Regions from separate parts of the Homo sapiens genome. Here all the other regions are linked to region 1. Evidence: fine-mapped expression QTL. A gene starts in region 1. Each other region holds a variant in brackets. All regions are shown on one strand. Distances are from middle to middle.

Region 1 (7,041 bases):
GGCTCAAGGAATCCTCCTGCCTCAACCTCCTGAGTAGCTGGGACCACTGGTGTGCACCACCACGCCTGGCTAATTTTTTGACTTTTTGTAGAAACAGGGTCTCACTTTATAGCTCTGGCTGGTATGGAACTCCTGGGCTCAAGTGATCCTCCCACCTCAGCCTCCCAAAGTGCTGGAATTACAGGTGTAAGCCACTGTGCCTGGCTTACAATTTTCTTTTACTGTCCTTATCTAGTAATAGTAAAACTCATCTTATAAAATAAATTGGCAGATTTCCTTCATTTTCTATCTTTTAAAATAATTTATATAAAGAAAGAAATTATTTGTAAAACCACACAGACTGATGTCTTTCACCAAGAACAAGCTTTTGATTCTTGATTTTTGTGGTTGTTGTTTTTTGGGTTTTTGTTTGTTTGTTTTTGTTTAGAGACAGAGTCTCACTGTGTTGCCCAGGCTCGAGTGCAGTGGTGTGATCTCGGCTCACTGCAACCTCCGTCTCCTAGGTTGAAGGGATTCTTGTGCCTGAGTCTCATGAGTAGTTGGGACCACAGGCACGCACCACCACACCCGACTAATTTTTGTATTTTTAGTAGAGACAGAGTTTCACCATGTTGCCCAGGCTGGTCTCGAACTCCTGACCTCAGGTGATTCACCCGCCTCAGCCTCCCAACGTGCTGGGATTACAGGCATGAGCCACTGTGCCCGGCCTGATTCTTGATTTGATTTCTTTATTGGTTACTAGTTTATTTAGGTTTTTATTTCTTATTGAAATTATCTTTTACCTATCATTTATATTTTCTTCTCAATAATTACCCATTTTATGTAAATTAAAACATTTATTCACATAAATTTGTCTAAAATATCACTTTATGATTATCAAAATTTCTACAGTATCTAATCTGATGTTCTCTTTTCATTTTTTATTTCTTCCAGTGAATATTTCTTTCTTGCACCAATTTTTTTTTTTTCTTTTCTTTTTTTTTTTGAGACGGAGTCTTGCTCTGTTGCTCAGGCTAGATGGAGTGCAATGGTACGATCTCGGCTCACTGCAACCTCCATCTTCTGGGTTCAAGTGATTCTTCTGCCTCAGCCTCCCAAGTAGCTTGGGTTACAGGCGTGCACCACCCCGCCCGGCTAAGTTTTGTATTTTTCGTAGAGCTGGGGTTTTGCCATGTTGGCCAGGCTGGTCTTGAACTCCTAACCTCAGGTGATCCACCCAGCTTGGCCTCCCAAAATGCTGGGATTACAGGTGTGAGCCACCGTGCCCGACCCTTTTTTTCTTTTTCTTTGACTAGTCTTGTCTATTAGTTATTTCAAAGAAGTAGCTTTGATTCTATTGAACCTCAATGTATTTCTTACAATGCTATTGAGGTATAATTTACACATAAAATTCATCCATTTACAAAAATGAAAGTTTAAAATTCAATTATTTTTGGCAAATTTACCAAATTATGAAATTGTCACCATTGTGCAGTTTTAGGACATTTTCATCACCCCAATTAGACTGTTTATTGTTCATGTACAGTTAATTCCCATTTCACACCCAGCTCCAGGCAACCATTAATCTACTTTCTGTCTGTATGGATTTGCCTTTTCCAGACATTTCATATAAATGGAAATTTATAGAACACAGGGCCTTTTGTGTCTGGCTTCTTTGACTTAGTGTTATTGAATGAATGAACCTCTCCGTTTTTCTTTCCCTTCCTTCCTCCCTCCCTCCCTTCCTTCCTTCCCTCCCTCCCTCCCTCTTTCTCTCTCCTTCTCTTCCTTTCCTTTTTCTTTCTCTCTTTCTTCCTTTCCTTTCCCTTTCTCTTTCTTTCTTTCTCTCTTTCTCTCTTTCCTTTCTCTCTTTCTTCCTTTCCTTTCCCTTTCTCTTTCTTTCTTTCTCTCTTTCTCTCTTTCCTTTCTCTCTCTCTTTCTCTCGCTTGCTTGCTTTTCTGGAGCTCTCAGAGCTGGTCAGAGCCCTCCAGGCCTACAGCTTTCGTGGAGTCAGAGCCTTCATCTCCTAGTATGGAAGCAACCCTCTTGGTCTCCCCACCCGCTTCGTACAGTTGGCCAAATGGTCTGAAACAAATGAAAGACCTGCCTTTCAGCATGTTTTGGGAGGTTCAGACAGCGCCTGACTCAATGAGAACGGTCAGCGACGAGCGGCGTTTCCTTCTTTTAAAGACCCTCTACAATTCCAGGCACTCCTGCAGCTGTGGAAACATTCCGAACGGCTTAGCAACCAGGACACCCTCTGCGCCGACCACTACCAGCATCGCAGGCTTCTTGAGCTGGCTTTCCCAGTGGAAAACCATGCTTGGTGTTTGCACACTGTTCAAAGGATGTTTTCGAACAAAGCACCGAGGAAGGGGCGAAAACACCTCAACACAGCCGTTCTCTGGGGTTGGAGCTATTGAACTGTGACATTTGCGAAGACTCAACTTGTTTATGACACGGTCCAAATAATAACCCTTGCAGACTGCCCGCCCCCCCCCCCCACCCCCAGCACTCTCCTTAGATTCAGGTAAAAGCATGTTATAACCGTCTATAGGACAAACAGGCAACAGTAGCAGTGAAGTGACTCAAGTAGCCAGGATCGAGAATGAAGGTGCTCAAAGAAGACTTTAGTTTGATCTGTATGTAGTGCGCTCATCTTTTTTGAAACTAGGAAATTAAAAATTAGAATAAAGTTTTTATTTAATATGCAAATACATCCGCAAACCCATCAGGAAACATAAGAGAAATCAGTGCCAAAGGAGCTCTTTCTCCCAGCCCTCTAATCCTGGCAGGTTTGTGGATCGTGGACGGGGAGCCCCTGGAAAGGACCGCGCCGGGAAGCCGGGCCCTGCAGGGACTGGCCGCGGCTGCACCGGCGTTGCCCGTCGCACACTAGGAGGCAGCACCGCGCCGAGGAACCCGCAGCAGACGGGCAGCCAGCGTGTGTGCCTGGGGCGAGTGCCCTCGCCTGCCGGCGTCCCCATCGGAAAAGTGGGGGCGAGGGCAGCCTAGCGGAATAGCTGCGGGAGGATTAAATGAACGAGTGCAGGTTCACCTTCTGGGCGCTGACAACGATCCGTGGGCTCTCGCGAAATGCCAAGTCGCCGTCCCGCTTGCTCCCATAAAAGTTTTGGGAGCCACGCGGCGCGGCGGGCGGGCTCCTGAGTCCATGAGCGGTCCCACCGAGCGGTCCCCGAAGCTTCCCCAAAGCCCAGCCCGCGGCTCGCGGAGCGTGGTGTGGGGGGACTACAGTTTCCAGAGTGCCCTGCGGCGACGGGCGGAGCCGGGGAGCGCCCGCAGCCAATTAGGGGGTCCCGGGGCTCTGCCGGGGAGCGGCGGGTGGAGCCGGGCCGGTGGGCGGGCGCGGGGACGGTCCCCTGGAACGGGTCCGAGGCTCTCGCAGGCAGGGCTGGGCCGGGCAGGAGCTGCGAGGCCGGCACAAGGGAGGCGGCCCTGGGGACCTGACAGGGCGGGGGCGGGGGCGGGCACGCCGCCGCCTGCGCGGTTCCGGGTGCTCCCGGCGCGGCGCTGCCCAGGGCACACTTGACCGAGGTCGGGCTGCGGGGAAAGGCGGGTCTGGGGAGAACCCCGAGAGACGCGGCGTCCTCCAACTCCTCCTCCTTCTCCTCGCGGCCGCCGAAGCCACAGCCCGAGCCCGAGCCCGAGCCCGAGCCGGCGCCACCGCGCCCCCGGCCATGGCTTTTGCCAATTTCCGCCGCATCCTGCGCCTGTCTACCTTCGAGAAGAGAAAGTCCCGCGAATATGAGCACGTCCGCCGCGACCTGGACCCCAACGAGGTGTGGGAGATCGTGGGCGAGCTGGGCGACGGCGCCTTCGGCAAGGTTTACAAGGTGAGGGCGCTGAGGTGGGTGGCCGGACGCGCGTCGAGGGGCTCCGGAAGGAAGGGATGCCTGAGCCGGACCCGGCCAGCCTGGCTCCGGCTCCGAGGGCTGCCCGGCGCTGAATTCGGGGTCCCTGGCCCTCATCCCGATGACTCTTGTTTTTTGGGGGGAACATCACTCGGCCCGGCCGAGTCCCTGCGCTCTGGGCGCCCCCTCCGGGCACGGTTGCCGCCCCCACCCTAGCCCTGTTTCGGAGCACTTCCTGTGTGTCCTGCACTGCGCTCGGCGCCGCACGGGGAGACAAAGGGGCGTTGACAGGACCTCAGCATCCGAGAGGGCCACTCGAGGGACCTTCCAGGGACGTTCCGTAAAACGGCGATACGGGCACACTTTTTTTTTTAAGAGAGACCACAGATGCTGTGGGAATATCGAGGCGATGTGGACCGAGAAACTCGGCTGCGCTTGGACGGGTTGGGAGCTAGGGACACATCTGAAGATGAGCCAGAGACAGGGAAGTGGGGTGGGCGAGGGGTGGCCCATGGACTGAGAGGTGGGGCTTGGAAAGGTGGGTTGGGGCTGGTCAGAGGGGGAGGTCAGGATCTGGTGAATGCTGAGCCTGGGGGAACAGATTTGATTCCGTCGGTCTGAGTCACAGCTGGGGAGTCTCCCAGCCTGCAGTCACCTCTCCCCTAGAGGAAGACGCGGCAGAGAGCTTTTGTGGAGTGGGTGGGGCAGAGCTGATTGAGTCTAGAGAAGTGTGGCAGCAGGACGTTGGTTTCTGCTCCTGGGAGCTAATTCTGAGGTGGTGAGTTGTTTTAGGGAGCCAACACCTACAGCTTGACTCCCCCCTTTCCCCTAAGAAAATTTTTACTGGGAGACGCCCACTTGTTAAATTGGTGTATACCTCCAGGAGAGCACCTCTCTTCTAAGCCACTATCCTCCTCCTTGGGGCTCCTGTAGCTTGTAGGGCACTCTGACCCTAGGATTGCCGTTCTATGAGGCTGGACCACAGAGAAGGCTTCTCCAGGCCTTCTCCTCTGACTTGGAAGTGGTCTATCGCCTAGTTACCGAAGTAGTTCCTAGATGACCGGTGTTATAATAGCATCATTTGGGAGCTTGTCAGAAGTGAACAATCTCATGCCCAGCCCCGACCTGCTGAATTAGAGTCTACGTTTTAATAAGATCCCAGGTGATTCCTAAGCAAATAGGTTTGAGAAGTACTGCCCTAGAGGCTTGGAGTGGTGGCGTTTTTTCTTTTTTCTTTTCTTTTTTTTGAGACAGGGTTTCCCTCTGTTGCTCAGTCTGGAGTGCAGTGGCCCGATCTCGGCTCACTGCAACCTCTGCCTCCTGGGCTCAAGCAATTCTCCTGCCTCAGCCTTCGGAGTAGCTAGGTCTACAGGTGCACACCACAGCCCGGCTAATTTTTGTATTTTTTGTAGACTTGGGGTTTCGCCACGTAGCCCAGGCTTGTCATGAACTCCTGAGCTCATGAAATCAGCTCGTTTCAGCCTCCCAAAGTGTTGGGATTACAGCGGTGAGCCACCCTGCCTGACCTGGAGCGGTGGCAATTTTGAGACCAACCAGGCCCACTCAGTGTCTTTTTTTATTTTTATTTTTTGTGAGACGGAGTCTCACTCTATTGCCCAAGCTGGAGTGCGGTGGTTTGATCTCGGCCCTCACTGCAACCTCCACTTCCTGGGTTCAAGCAATTCTCCTACCTCAGCCTCCCAAGTAGCTGGGATTGCAGGCACACACCACCATGCCTGGCTAATTTTTGTTTTTTTAGTAGAGACGGGGTTTCACCATGTTGTCTAAGCTGGTCTCGAACTCCTGACCTCAGTTGATCCACCCACCTCGGCCTCCCAAAGTGTTGGGATTACAGGCGTGAGCCACTGTGCCTGGCCTGGTGCCTGTTTTGTTTCCTTGCCACCTCCCCTCTGAGCCCACACTTCCTGTTATGGGGTAGGGAGAGGTCTTGTGATCCGAGAGGCAGTGCTTTTGGACTGCCCCGACTTGCTGTCCTCCTTTGCCTGAGGGCCTTGCCCATATTTGAGGGCAGCCAGCTCACCCTGTCCTCAGCACGTCTTTTCTTTACTCTCCTCAGAGCTGCATCTTCTTCCTGGTGGCACCAGAGAACGATCCTCAGCCTTGCAACTGTCTCTGGACACTGCCAGTGTCCTTGACTGCCTTAGACAGAGCCTGCTCCTGCAGCTGTGCTCTGACTACTGTGAGGGCAGCTGGACCCCTGTGGTCAGCTCACCACAGGACCCACTTTCTCCAGAAGGTTCAGTTGGTGTTTTTAGCGTATGCTAAACATATGGGTTTTTTGGGCCGGGCGTGGTGGCTCACGCCTGTAATCCTAGCACTTTGGGAGGCTGAAGCAGGCAGATCATGAGGTCAGGAAATTCAGACCATACTGGCCAACATGGTGAAACCCTGTCTCTACTAAAAATACAGAAATTAGCCGGGCATGGTGATGCATGCCCGTAATCCCAGCGTCTCAGGAGGCTGAGGCAAGAGAAACGTTTGAACCAGGGAGGTGGAGGGTGCAGTGAGCTGAGATAGCGCCACTGCACTCCAGCCTGGCGACAGAGCGAGACTCTGTCTCAAAAACAAAACAAAACAAAACAAACATATGGGCTTTTTTTTTTCTCCGTTAGGGGCTTTCAATTGCATTCTTGTCCCCTTCCCCGCAGTGTGTCCTGGCTTCACAGGGTTCATCTTCCTTTAAACTTAAACGCAGAACTTTGCTTTCATGCTGGTAAGATTTCCCCTTGTCATTTTCAGTTGTGTTTCCTCCTGCTTTAGTCCCTTAAGACTCCCCTGCTACTCTGAAAGTTTCATACAAAGGAACTCATCCGATCCACAATCGATACTGTCTCCTCTTGGTTCTCCAAAGCACGTGGAAAGTCAGTTTTTAAAAAAGTGACTCCAGGGCCAGGTGCTGTGGCTCACGCCTGTAATCCTAGCACTTCAGGAGGCCGAGGCGGGTGGATCACTTGAGGTTAGGAGTTTGAGACCAGCTGGGGCAACATGGTGAAACCCCACCTCTACTAAAAATAAAAAAATAAAAAAATTAGCCGGGTGTGGTGGCGCGTGCCCTATAATCCCAGCTACTCGGGAGGCTGAGGCAGGAGAATTGCTTGAACCCGTGAGGCGGAGGTTGCTGTGGGCTGAGATCATGCCGCTGCACTCGAGTCTGGGGGACAGAGGGAGA
Region 2 (7,041 bases), 22 kb after region 1:
TTAGTCATTTAAGAATACATACTGAAAAAAAAAAAAAAAAGGATACATACTGAGTGTCTGCCATGACCAGAGTAATAGATACATTGGTGAACAAAATAAACATGTTTTTAGGCTTTCAAAAACAAAAAATACACAGTTCCAAGAGAGAACAGTAACAACCAATAGTCAACTGGCTAACCCATAGTGGTTTATTGATTTTCCCGTGCGTCACTGAAATTGTTTATGTCTTCATCAGGAAACGAAGGCCTGGTGTCCTGGCTTCCGCAAGCACACTTAGCTAGTAAGTAGTAGAGTTGGGACTTGAGCTTAGGTCCTGCGCTGTTTCCACAAATTGCTCGATAGAAATTTGCTCATTTCTAAGTTTGCCAAGATGGGGACATCGGAGGGAGCGGGGTCGATTCCTGTAACAATAACTTTATTGGCTACAGGATTGAAGGAAGGAGAGAGGCTGATGTTCATAGAACCCAGCAAGGGTGGGCTCAAGTGCCTTTTGGAAAGAAGGGAAGATGATAATTGTCTACTCCCTGGACATACATGTCATTCCTTTATCCCTCTCATACCCACCTAGTCTCATGCACACCCATTCATGCCCCTGCCAACTCACTCTCCCATGCATCTGTCCATCCTTCCATTCATCTGCCCATCCACCCACCCTCCCATTCTTCTGCCCACCCATCCATTCACCCAACCTCTCATCCATTCACCATCCCACTTAACTCATTTTCCCATCCATTCCTCCAGCCCCTACCTCCCATCCGTTCACTCCTCCATGTGCTTGTCTGCCCACCTATCTTCCCGTTCACTCCCACTCCCACTGTCCCATCTACCCACTGGCTCTTCTGTGCCAGGCTCTGTAGGGTAGACTGAGAGGAGTCAGGTGGGCTGAGCCTTTCAGAGATCACAGCCAGGTCAGAGAATCTGTGATGCAGATGCCCAGGGGACAGGGCAGTCTGCGATGAAAACCTTAACAAGGTGCAAAGAGATTCTAGTCGGGGAGGTGGGCTGGGGTTCTGGGGAAGATGTCATGAGCTAGGCTGGGGTTGAGTTCGATTTTGCTGGCTGATTAAACGCAGGTAGGGAGGAGGTGTTCTCTGTGGAGGAGGGAGCATGAAGAGGGCTGGGAAGTAGGCAGCAGGCACGGGGCTGAGTGAGAGGGAATGGCGGGACCCTGGGGAAGTGGGCAGGGGCAGGTCATGAGGGTGTGAGTGCTGGGCCAGGGAGCTCCTGCGTTAGCTTGTCAGCAGCTAGGAGCCCTTGAGGGTTCACCCTGAGTGTTTCTGGTTGAAGGCCACGGAGGGAAAGAGGGGAAGGAGGGCTGGCACACTGAGCAGCTGGGCGGGAGACCCCTGGCATGACAACTTTGGTGGGCTGCTGAGGGCACAGAGCACTGGGCGGAGAGCCAGAGCTGAGCTCCAGGCCTGCCAGTGCCTCCTAGCTATGTGACCTGGGACAAGTCAGTTTCTCTGCCTGGGCCTCCCTTTTCTCTTCCATAAAAGGCGATGGTGGTACCTCTGTGTACTTCATGGGCCTGTGCTGGAGAAAGGCGGGCTGCTCGTTGCCCTGCAGCAAGAGACCATAAGAGGGTTTGACAGGCCTTTTTCATCCTGAGCCCGCAAGGACCTGGGCCTCCCAAGGCCCAGGCCCGTGGTGCATAAGGCTCCTGTCCTCTGCTGACTCACGCCTGCCAGCCAGGGGCCTTAGTGGGCTCTAAACTCAAGCCCATGTCAGCTGGCCACCCCGGCTCTGTGTCTGCTGTCCTCAGGTCACCCCCTTTGGCTTTATGTTGGGCCCTTTTCCTGCACATAGTCAGTTCTGCTGTGACCGTGGTTTTCTCTGGGGCCAGATTTTCTCTCTCCTAAATAGAGTCGCAGCCCTTCCTGCGATTGACCGCCTTCATCACCATGCAAAGATTAACTGTGTTCAGGCAGGGACAGCACAGCTGTACATTGTGTGACACCCAGACCAAGCCCTGCTTTGGTTCCAGTGGCCTGAACCATATTTGATACATGCCTGGCACGGCCGTCCAGAATAAAGACAGGGAAATAGGAACCCTGAGCCCTGACTGCTCCGTCCTTTGGCTCTGACCCACACCCAGGCTTTTCATCCGACAGGTCAGCTGGGAGCCTTCCCTCACACCTGCCACTCAGCCAGGTTGCTAGGAGACTTCCGTAGCAAATGATCATTGGGTGGGGTTCCTCTGCTGATTCCTTGCACATGTCCCCTTTTGCTTCCTAGAAAAAGAAACCCATGTTTCAGAATCTGGGTCTGGGACAGTGGAGTGAGTTTTAGATGCTCCCTTACCTCCGAAGAGGCATTTTCTGCCAGAGAGGGCTGGGGGTGAACTTTCTACAGTGATCGAAGTGTTCTGTATGTACCTGCTCTGTTCAATACGGTAGCCACAGTGTGGTGGCACGTGAAATGTGGCTAATGCAACTGAGGAACTAAATTTTTGCTTCATATCTATTAATTTAAATAGCCACGTGCGGCTAGTAGCTACTGTATCAGACAGTGCAGCTCATGTGGGTTCCGAAAGAACGAGGGTGTCTGTCTCTGGAACGTGTAAGGCAAGCTCAGATGAAGTGGTCTCTCTCTATGTGGGAGGCTTATTTGCACCAGTCCCAGTCTGCCCTCGCTGGGACCCCTGTGGATAATTGCCAGATGTCACTGGGTGAAAATCATCTTTATAAATCGCTTGACTTCATTATGCTGTGTTTTAGCTCGTCCCTGTCCATAGGCACATGCAGTTTTCCCAAAGGAAAATTGTAGCCTAGTTACAATTTCATTATCCTATTTTGTTATTTACTATTATGGCTTAAGGATTTTTTCTCATTACTGTATTATCTTCTTGTTTATCATTTAAGGGTTACTTAATATCCCATTAAGTTAATTTAACCATTGTCTTTAGTGATTTCACCTTTTTTCTATTATTATGGACTAATATAAACTGAACATGATCCTAGTACATTTCTTTTGTTGCCTTTCTTTTTTTTCTTTTTTTTTTTTTGAGACAGATTCTTGCTCTGTTCCCAGGCTGGAGTGCAGTGGCACGATCTCAGCTCACCACAACCTCTGCCTCCCAGGTTCAAGTGATTCTTCTGCCCCAGCCTCCCGAGTAGCTGGGACTACAGGTGCGCGCCATCTTGCCTGGCTAATTTTTGTATTTTTAGTAGAGACGGGGTTTCACTATGTTGGTCAGCCTGGCCTCGAACTTCTGACTTTCTGATCCGCCCGCCTCAGCCCCTCAAAGTGCTGGGATTACAGGCACGAGCCACCGTGCCTGGCCTGTTGTCTTTTTAAAAGTATTTCCTGGCCTTAAATTCCCAGGAATGAGGGATAATAGGCTGAAAAGGTATTTTCATGGCTTTTAAAACCTATTTCCAATTGTTGTCTTTGAAAGATTGAATCAGTTTCTATTCTTGTCAGTAATGCGTTCACCCATTTTACTACATCGTCTCCAGTGCTGGGTTGTCACAATTGCATGTTTTTGCTAATTTATTAAGTGTAAAATGATCCTTTCCACTTTTTTGGAGGAAGATTCTTTTGGCAGAAGAATTCCATAGTTGCTGTTGGCCTCTGTCCTACGTGTTTTCCATGTAGGTCTCCAAATCCTAGATTATCAGTCAGCTCTTTGGTGAGGTCTCAGTGAATGTCACCTTATAGATTATGGTGGGCTTGGGAATGAAGGTGGCCCTTGATACACGCGTGTTGTGTGGTGAGGCACTCCTCTAGATATCTGTTCCTTGCTGGAACAGCCCCAGAGAGAGGGAACTCATCTCCTTCTTGGTGGCCAATGGCAGGAATCCAAAAGGGAATTTATCGGCTCATGTAACTGAGAAGTCTACGGGTAGAGTCCGCCTTCAGGTACAGCTGTCTCCAGGTGTTCCACAGAGCCAGTAGCACTCCATTTGTGAGCCCTGCTTCTGCCATCTTGGCCTCACCCTCCGGCAGCCACTCTGAAGGAGTGGCAAGATGGGCTACAAGACCCTTCAGCCTTTCATTCTACCGATTTAGCAGCGCCAGAGAAAGAAAAAGCTGCTGTCCTGATAACTTCAGCAAAAATGCAAACAACTGGCCGAGCGCAGTGGCTCACGCCTGTAATCCC[T/A]GCGCTTTGGGAGGCCAAGGTGGGCGGATCACTTGAGGTCGGGAGTTCGAGACCAGCCTGACCAACATGGAGAAACCCCGTCGCCACTAAAAATACAAAAACAGCCGGGCGTGGTGGCGCATGCCTGTAATCCCAGCTACTCGGGAGGCTGAGGCAGGAGAATCACTTGAATCCGGGAGGTGGAGGTTGCAGTGAGCCAAGATCGCACCATTGCACTCCAGCCTGGGCAACAAAGAGGGAAACTCCGTCTCAAAAAAAAAAAAAAAAGCAAACAACCAAAAACAAATTTAAAGAGCCACCCAGGCACGACCCTGTTGGCCTGCCTTGGGACCATGCCCAGGCATCTCTGAACCAATGACTGTGACAAGTTTCATTTTCAGGCGCCCTTGGTTCAGTCCTCTGATTAGCTGGGCCTGGGGTATGCCCCGGCCCAGGGTGAGGTCAACCCGCTATGAATCCCTTGGACTCAGAGCGAGGGAGAGGCAGTGTCCAAAAGCAACTAGAGTTTTGAATCCACAAGGGGGAATGGATGCTGGCCAAGTCCCCCACTGCTCCCCAGCCCCAGGGTCAATTTCCCAGCAGCTCCAGTGGCTCCCAGACCTGAGGTTAGGGGTGCCCCAGGAACAGGCCCCTCTAGGCTCTTTGCTCTTGTGTTCTCATTTACTCTTCTTGAGGCACACCTGTGTCACAGATGAGACAAGTGTCACAGATGGGACCCTGGTCTCTGCATTCGCCTTGGTGGACTCAGCTTCCTCATCTGCAGAGTTGGGTTGGGGAGCTGGAGTTAAGGAGGGGTGGCTAATGTTTTCTCACTGTCCTGAGGTCTGTGATATCAGCTATTTCCCGGGAAGCGGTGGGAGCAACACACTGATCAGTGGGCAGCCGGGAGGGAAGGGGAGGGCCTGGGGGTGGGTCCCCTGCTGGCCTTTGTGCAGCTGACTCTCAGGAAGCCCCCAGCCCCTGACTGGGCTGGCTGGGCCCCTTGGGTGAAGCAGTGTCCCCGGCTGGGAGGGTTATCCCCACCTCCTCCAGGCTGGGCCCCTTGCGGGTACAAGGGGGAGGATTGTTCCCACAGAGGTGCTTGGGCCAGAAAACACAAGTGGCCACTGTGTATCTGCTCGCAAGGGTGTGGGCTGAGGCGTTAGTCACTGCCAGCCAGCAGTGGAAGGCTGGGCCAAGGCTCCCCTCATCGTGCGCCGGAACCCGGCCTTGCTTCAGCCGCTGGGAGAGAGGGACATCGGAGGCCACAGACAGCCGCTTGTTCTTTATGCTATTCCTTGCCTGCCAACTCCCACGTGGGCCTCATCTACTTGGACCACCCTTAGCTTTCCAAGACTCACCCACTCCCTAAGACGGCTCTCATCAGAGCATGGAGAGAGTTGGACATCATTTCACCATCCATCCTCCCCCATATAGGGGGGAGACTGAGGCCCAGATGAGACTTTTGCAGAATATACAGGCATCTCTGGCAAAGCTGTCAGATACATGGAATTTGAACCCACATTGGCCGGAATTCAATTCCTAATCCTTTGAACCTGCTGTGTGACCTTGGGCCGGTGACTTCATCTCTCTAAGCATCGGTTTTCTTATATATAAAATAAAGCCCTTAATAGAGAGTTGTAAAAGTTAATTGAAGGGATCAACGGTCTTCTCATGCCCTCTCTCAGCTTTAGTGCCTCAGACCTAGTTTGATTTTCAGGCCCCCTTAGGGGCAGGATGGCTTTAGGCTGGAGGCTAGAAGTCAAGGAGAGCTTGCAGCAGTCTCAGCTGGCTCAGCAGTTGTTCTGAGAATGCATTTCATTGGCTGACTTGATCACATGCCAATTTTTTTTTTTTTTTTTTTTTTTTTAGATGGAGTTTCGCTCTTGTTGCCCGGGCTGGAGTGCAATGGCGCTATCTTGGCTCACTGCAACCTCCGCCTCCCGGGTTCAAGTGATTCTCCTGCCTCAGCCTCCCGAGTAGCTGGGATTACAGGCATGCACCATCACGCCCAGCTAATTTTTGTATTTTTAGTAGAGGTGGGGTTTCACCATGTTGGCCAGGCTGGTCTCAAACTCCTGACCTCAGGTGATCCACCTGCCTAGGCTTCCCAAAGTGCTGGGATCACAGGGGTCAGCCACCGCGCCTGGCCACGTGCCTATTCTTGAGCCAATCACTGTGGCCAGAGGGAGCGCGGTATTCTGATTGGCCAAGATGAGTCCCTACCCACTTCTAGATATTGTATTTTAGGGACTGGAAATGAGGGCAGGTTGGTCCCTGCTGAAGAAAAATCGGGGAAGGGTGAATTATGATATGGGAGGGCAGTGATTCCCTCATGCAAATTTTCCTAGGCAGAAAATTGCTTGTCTTGTTCATTAGAATTTAGCCAAGTAAATAGTGGTTGAATGAATGACTAGGGAATAAGCTGCTTCCTGGCAGTGTGGTGTAGTGAACACTAGGCCGGGAGTCAGGAGGCCACTGTGACAGCTCACAGTCCTGCTGGATTCCCAAGCCTCAGTCTGCTCACTTGGGAAACCGGCACCAAGGCTAACGCTGGCCTTAACGGTTTGTTGGCAGATGACATTCTGGCTGCCTGAGCACTCCTCAGCTGCCAGGCACTCCCTTGCTGTGAGTGGTTGCTATTGGCTGTGATTGTCATTCATCTTTAGCAAAGGGAGATAGAACAGGGAGCTCTGGACAGTCATCAGGAAAGGTCTTTGGGGGAAATGTTTTGGAGGTAAGGAAGGCTTGAATTGGATCCAGCCTTTACCCTCCACCCCCACTCGCTGTGTGACCTGAGGCACATCACCCCACCTCTCTGAATCTTTTTCCTCATCTGTAAACTGGCAATAATATTTGTCTTTAAGGGCTGGATGGAGGATGAAGTGAGAAATTCCGTTTAAGTCCTGTCCTGGAACACAGAGAGTGCTCAGTCAGTGTTAGCTGTTTTTATCATCAGC
Region 3 (7,041 bases), 75 kb after region 1:
ACCTGGCTAATTTTTGTATTTTTAGTAGAGACCGGGTTTCACCATGTTGGCCAGGCTGGTCTCGAGTTCCTGACCACAAGTGAACCACCCGCCTCGGCCTCCCAAAGTGCTGGGATTACAGGTGTGAACCACCCCGCCCGGCTCAAAACCTTCTTCTTTAAATGTCTCCTCTTTGTATTTTTAATGTTTTTATTTTTTTAACCAAAATAACACATACATGTGTCATCCCCTCACGTGTCTCCTTTTGCCATCCACCTGCAGAGACAAGCGCTTTGAGCTCTTCTCATGTGTACTTCTGCATCGCCAAATGATATGGCTACAATGCATTTTTTAAAGTAATGATTTTCGGCCAGGCATGGTGGCTCACGCCTGTAATCCCAGCACTTTGGGAGGCCGAGGTGGGTGGATCACCTGAGGTCAGGAGTTCAGGACCAGCCTGGCCAACATGGCGAAACCCCAATCTCTACTAAAAATACAAAAATTAGCCGGGCGTGGTGGCACACGCCTGTATTCCCAGCTACTCAGGAGGCTGAGACAGGAGAATCGCTTGAACCCAGGAGGCAGAGTTTGCAGTGAGCTGAGATTGCACCACTGCACTCCGGTCTGGGCAACAGAGTAAGACCCTGTTTCACGAAAACAAAAACAAAAACAAAAACAAAAAAACAAACAACACATAGTTGGTGCTCAATAAACAGTCACTTCCAGCATGACCACCACTTTAGCCTATGGTTAGTTACTTCAGCATCCCCAACTCCCAACCCCCATGCCCCGCCCAATGTGCTGGAGACTTGGCAGGTGGACCAGTCAGGAAGCCAACTGCCCATCTCTCACTGCTGCCTTCACCCAGCCCAGCATTGCTATTTCCTGCTACCAGCAGGCTGGGGGCCTGGTTCTTTCACTAGAGCTACCATGCACTGAGCCAGCATCTGATATGTGTTAACTCATTCCATTCTCAAAAGCCACTGATATCATCTTGCAGGATGGATTTGGGACCTAGCAAGACTGACTTATCCAAGGTCACATTGCCGATAAGAGGAACAACTGGGGTTCAAACCAAGGCAGCTGGGTCCAGAGCCTACGTGCTTAACCACTACCCTCTTGTCGCCTCTCTTAGTGGCAAATGATAAAAACCCACTTCCTAAGAGTTAAGGCAGACAGGAAAATGTGTACATCATGGAGCCAAATTGGAGAAGAAATACAGCTGGGTGGGCCTTAAAGTTAGTTGAAACCTGGAACATAAACGCTGCCAGGACCGTATCCCTGGCCCTTAACGCTGCCAGGACCGTATCCCTGGCCCTTGGCTTTCTGTGCATGTAGGTTCGGCTCCCAGACCAACCCTCTCCACCAAGCTCAGGATACCATCTAGTTTCACATTTCCCGGCATCATCTGCTGCTGCCTGAACCCGAACTCACCATTGGAGGCTTTGGCATCAATAATCCCAGGGGAGGGCTCTGACTGGCCCCGTTTGGCCCAGATAGTAATCCTTGGACCAATCAGTGAGGCCCAGGCAGGAGGGGGTCTCCCACAGGCCCGGCTTGTCTTCAGTCTCTGGCACGGAGGGTGGGGTCACGTGACAACACGGAAGTAGCCCTCGCCCCCGCAATGAGGCAGTGTGGTGGGTGGGGAGATGGTTTTTCAGAGGAAGGGAGGATTCGGACTGGCCAGAAAAAAAAATTGCGGTCTACCTACCCTGCCCAGCCTGTGAGAATCGCACAGGCCCAGCAGAGGGGAAGTAAGTGAGGCAGAAGCTTGAGGGATGGGAAGCAACAAGAAAGGGCTGGGTTGGCGGTGAGTGCGTGGAGGGTGTCAGGAAGACAGTGCAGTGTGTTGCGAGGAGGAGAGTCAGTGAAGGCCGAAGGTGGGGGGTCAAACCGGAAGACGAAGCCCTTATCAAATGGGCACGCGTCTCTAGGTTCCTAAAAAACGGAAGAAAATAAAAATAACCGGCCGGGTGCGGTGGCTCACGCCTGTAATCCCAGCACTTTGGGAGGCCGAGGCGGGCGGATCACGAGGTCAGGAGATCAAGACCATCCTGGCTAACACGGTGAAATCCCATCTCTACTAAAAATACAAAAAAATTAGCCAGGCATGGTGGCGGGCGCCTGTAGTCCCAGCTACTCGGGAGGCTGAGGTAGGAGAATGGCGTGAACCCGGGAGGCGGAGCTTGCAGTGAGCCGAGATTGCGCCACTGCACTCCAGCCTGGGCGACAGAGTGAGACTCCGTCTCAAAAAAAAAAAAAAAAAAAAAAAAAAATATATATATATATATATATATATAATTTTAATATACATAAATTTGGAGCTATACACAGCAAACCCGTAAATGTTTAGTTGTCAGTATTATAGTTTTTAATCTGAAAAATAATGAGTTTTTAATAAGCAACATGACTTTGGTAATCAGAAAACACACATACACACACACACACACACACACACACGAGAGTAGCTAGAGTCCTGTACACAATTTGGAATAAGACCCACAAAAAGGAGAATTAAGGTCCTTCCTAATCCTGCCAGAATAAACCACCACTCTCCGTGGGCTTCCCTCCAAGTCTTTTTTTGTCTGCAGAAAAGTCGGATCAGATAGTGGGAAAGAGCACAGCTGGGTGACCTTCTGTGCATTACTTAGTCTTTCTTAAGTTAAGCTTCCTTATCTGTAAAATGGGAGTCATAATTTTCCCTGCCTTAAAGGGTCATAGATATAAACGATGTGTGTAGGAATAGATATGCAGATGATATGCATAAGTTTCTTTGCACAGTGCTATGCATATGGTAAGTTCTCAGTAAATATTAGTTTTTCTTTTTTTTTTTTTTGAGATGGAGTTTTGCTTTTGTTGCCCAGGCTGGAGTGCAATGGCACGATCTTAGCTCTCCACAACCGCTGCCTCCTGGGTTCAAGCGATTCTCTTGCATCAGCCTCCTGAGCAGCTGGGATTACAGGCATGTGCCACCACGCCTGGCTAATTTCGTATTTTTAGTAGAGAGGGGATTTTTCCATGTTGGTTTTTGTCTCGAACTCCTGACCTCAGGTGATCTGCCTGCCTCAGCCTCCCAAAGTGCTGGGATTACAGGCATGAGCCACCGTGTCCGGTGACAATATTAGTTTTTATAAGATAAACTAGGATTATTATATATATATACAGTTTCCTAGTCTGGTTTTTAACATTGAATATCAGCGTATTCCTCCATATCCTTAAAGATTCCTCAGAAACATGATTATTTTCGTGTTTTTCTTGTACCCATCACAGGCACAAAATGTAATTTACCTATCAGAGCCCTGAGGAAAGCCCTGAATTGGATACTTGGGTTTCTCATGAGGTTTATCATCTTTACGAAATCATGCAGTGATGAGTGTGCTTGTTCATGGATCTTTGCGTCTCTTTCTGTAACATACCTTGAAGAGGAATTCTCAGAAGCAGAGTGCTGGGTGTGTGCAGTGAGTTGGGGTTTTGTTCATCCTGCAGCCGGCATGCCCTCCGTGCTGGTCATACCAGTTGACACCCCCCCCAGTGCAGTGTGCAATTCTCTTTTCACCACATCCTGG[C/T]CCCTACTGGGTTTTACTTAATAGAGAAAAAACAAAAAAACCCACAAAACCAAAAAACTTTGCTACATATGCATTTCAGTTTTTTAAACCATAGAAACAATACACTCTATCAAAAACATTTTAAAGAACAAAAGTGGGTCGGGCGCGTTGGCTCATGCCTGTAATCCTAGCACTTTGGGAGGCCGAGGCAGGTGGATCACCTGAGGTCGGGATTTTGAGACCAGCCTGACCAACATGATGAAACCCCCCGTCTCTACTAAAAATACAAAATTAGCCGGGCGTGGTGGCGCATGCCTGTAATCCCAGCTGCTTGGGAGGCTGAGGCAGGAGAATTGCTTGAACCCGGAAGGTGGAGGTTGCAGTGAGCCGAGATCGTGCCATTGCACTCCAGCCTGGGCAACAAGAATGAAACTCCATCTGAAAAAAAAAGAATAAAAGTGTGTAAAGTGAAAAATGTAGGGTCCTGGCCGGGTGCAGTGGCTCACACCTGTAATCCCAGCACTTTGGGAGGCCGAGGTGGGCGGATCATGAGGTCAGGAGATCGAGACCATCCTGGCTAACATGGTGAAACCCCGTCTCTACTAAAAAAAAAAAAATTAGCCGGGCATGGTGGCAGGTGCCTGTAGTGCCAGCTACTTGGGAGGCTGAGGCAGGAGAATGGCGTGAACCCAGGAGGTGGAGCTTGCAGTGAGCGAAGATCACACCACTGCACTCCAGCCTGGGTGACATGCGAGACTCTGTCTCAAAAAAAAAAAAAAAAAAAAAAAGTAAGGTCCCTTCTGTGCACTGCCCCCACCAAAATCCCACTTCCAGGGAGATGAACATTAAGTTTGATGTGCAGACTTCCAGACCGGTGTGTGTGTGTGTGTATGCACATGCGTGCAGACATGTACACACAAGATGCATATATTATTCCTTTAAAGATAATCTTCTACTGGAGTACCTGCACTTGGATCATTTCTGGAATCATGCTACACATTTTATAAGACTCATCAGTCAGTCAGCAACATGTTTGGGACATGTATTAATGTATTAGAGATACACTTCCAAGTTAGTCCATACAAATACAGCCTCATTCTTTTTAAGAGCTGCATGTTATTTCATAGCTGGGGTGAACCACAACTTATCTAACCATTCAGCAATGAAGCTCCAGCAACACTTTGGATGATTTCCAATTTTCCATTCTTTTTGGCTGTTGCTTTTATAAGCATCCATATATATTATAGATCTGGTTTTAGAGATGGATTTCTACAAATAGAATTGCTGGCAAACAAGTTTTTAAAACCCAGTTTTATTTTTTACATATATGAGTAAAGGCATTTTAGCAAATTCTGTCTCTTTATTTATTTATGAGCATGCTCATTCGATAAACCTGTTGAGTGCTTCCTGCTCCAGATAACGTGCCAGGGATACAACTGTGGCCACAGCAGAAATGATCTCTTTCTTTATGGAAATTACAGCGGAGAAAGGGAGATTTCCCTTATCTCCGCCGCCCTTGTCTCTAATACATTTTAAAATGGGAGGAGAAGGGGGAGTGTTTTCATCAGAAGAGACTGCATGGTGAAAATCCCTTTTGAATTGCTCAAGGGCAGCCATCAGCTATCAAGGGACACTCCCTTATAAACTCTGCGGAGGGAGCAAACAGGCTCAGTTCTCTGGGCTGCAAGGTGGGGCTGCCCCACTCTCCCATCTGGGCCCCATCGTGTGGGGCAGAAGGGGAAGTAGCAGCTACCCAAAGAGCTGGCTGGTGCGTGCCTGAGGGAGGCCCTGGGGACCTACGGTGTGTCATTGCACGTTGGTGGTTTCTGTTTCTCGTCTCTCTTCTCAGGAAGGGATCGGCAGGGCCTGTGGTCGGGGAGTGGCCACCTTTTGGGATCCTCACCCTGGGCCTGAGAGGCAGTCACTGTTCCCAAAAGGTTTCCTGGGATGGGATGATGTGCCAGCCCTTAGTGGTGTTTGCGAGGGAGCCAGGCCCACAGGGGGGCCTGGCTGACCCAGCAGGAAGGTGGGGCCAGCTTCCCATTCTTACCCTGGAGGCCCAGGGGAGCCGCCTGCCAGAGTCATCAGCAGAGCCAGGCTCTACCTGGGTTTCCTGCTTCTGCACCTCACTTGCAGCACCTGTTGGTCCCACTTCAGGAGGCTGAGGGCCCCCTGTCCCCTCTTGCTGGCCAGACTGTCCCCTGATATAGCAACTGCTGTCCAGTTAGCACTAACCGGGGCTCAGAAGCCAGCTTTCCTGACCACTCCCAGGAGGTGCCGGGGGGTCTTAGTTCAGCCTCAGCCTTGCCCCAGCCTGAAAAAGGCTGGACTGGCTCATGGGCCGGTGAAAGAATCACCATCTTCTCGCTTTTGCCACGAGTGGACCTTGCATCACAGTGCTTTGCGTTTGTCATTTAATCCTCAGGAAAACCTGCGCAATGGTTCTGTGCTATCACCCCCGTGTCACAGATGGGGAAACTGAGGCTCAGAGGCTTTGTAACTGCCCTGCCCGTCTCCTGCCTTATCTGCTTCCACCCCCGGCCCCCTCCTTCCGGCCAGGCTGTGTCCTGTCCCCGCTGGTCCCTCCAGCCTGCTGTTTCCTGCCTCCCAGTCTGTTTGCAGTTTTCTCTGCCTGGAAATACCTCCCCCAGATCCTGAGTTTGTGTCTAAAGTAGCTCCCCACCCTGCACCCCAGCACTGTGTTCTTCTCCCTGCCTTCTCAGCCCTGGGCCCTTCTCGCTGCCAGGCATTCCGGGGGTTTTGCCAGGTGCCTGTCGCCACCACGGGAATAACATGTGGCATGTCAGGCAGGACTTGGTTGCTTTCATCTCTGTGCCTAGAACAGTGTCGGGCACATAATAGATGTGCAGTTAGTGTATGCTGAATAAAACTGTCCTTCCTCCAAAGCCCCCAGCCCTCCCTCCATGACCGTCCCCTCGAGGTCACACCCCCTACTGTGCACTCTTGAGTAGCCCCGGTCCTGTCTTCCCAACACTTTCCATGTTAGGAGTAGATGTTTGTTTATTTGCTTACTCTCTGCTCCCCCAACTAAACTGTGGATTCCCCGAGGGTCCTCATTGTATTCTCTGATCCCGGCTAGTGTCTCGCTCCTGATGGAGCCTGGTGAGCACCTGAATGAATGGGTGAGTGGACAGTGAAGCAGAAGAGCAGAGGCTGGAACCAAGTTCTCCCGTATTCAGGCCCAGCCTCTTGGCATTGTGCTGCCTCCTTGTTTCACGTTGCAAGTCTGAAAGGAGCTCCTGGATACAGCTCATTTCAAGACCAGGCACTGGTGCCCGGGGTGGCCTGAAGTTGTCATAATGCTGCAGCTTCTTGGGATGAATCGTCCAAAGGCAGCCATCATCTAGCAGGGGACACCCCTCATAAATTCCATTCAGGGAGTTTCAAATGGAGCATCCCGGGTTCTCTCAAAGTGTTGTTTCATCCTGAATCTATTTTTCAGTCAAGATGAAACTTCACCACAGAAGGCAGGAGCCCTGGAGAAAATTTCTCTTGG

The links. PIP is the estimated chance that this variant, and not a neighbour inherited with it, causes the effect. A credible set is the group of variants that fine-mapping cannot tell apart.
Region 2: its variant is the best candidate, but not a certain one, in a credible set for the expression of STK10 in whole blood (INTERVAL, PIP 0.50).
Region 3: its variant is the best candidate, but not a certain one, in a credible set for the expression of STK10 in whole blood (TOPMed, PIP 0.89).

What each region holds. Positions count from the first base shown.
Region 1 is chr5:172,184,679-172,191,719 of GRCh38, reverse strand. STK10 (serine/threonine kinase 10) reads left to right here and starts at 3,496. Exons shown (of 19, transcript NM_005990.4): 1 at 3,496-3,833. The coding sequence starts at 3,678. RefSeq lists enhancers at 2,736-3,511, 4,564-4,643, 5,304-5,353, 5,624-5,673, 6,714-6,763 and silencers at 3,184-3,543, 3,844-3,893, 4,024-4,103.
Region 2 is chr5:172,163,122-172,170,162 of GRCh38, reverse strand. All of the region lies in intron 1 of STK10 (serine/threonine kinase 10), which reads left to right. Among named protein-coding and RNA genes, the nearest start is that of STK10, 22 kb to the left of the region's middle. RefSeq lists an enhancer at 4,687-5,666. The variant T/A (reference allele first, on the strand shown) is at 4,103.
Region 3 is chr5:172,109,688-172,116,728 of GRCh38, reverse strand. The region is part of intron 4 of STK10 (serine/threonine kinase 10); the gene reads left to right. Among named protein-coding and RNA genes, the nearest start is that of STK10, 75 kb to the left of the region's middle. RefSeq lists enhancers at 1,132-1,632, 1,561-1,870, 5,172-5,641. The variant C/T (reference allele first, on the strand shown) is at 3,546.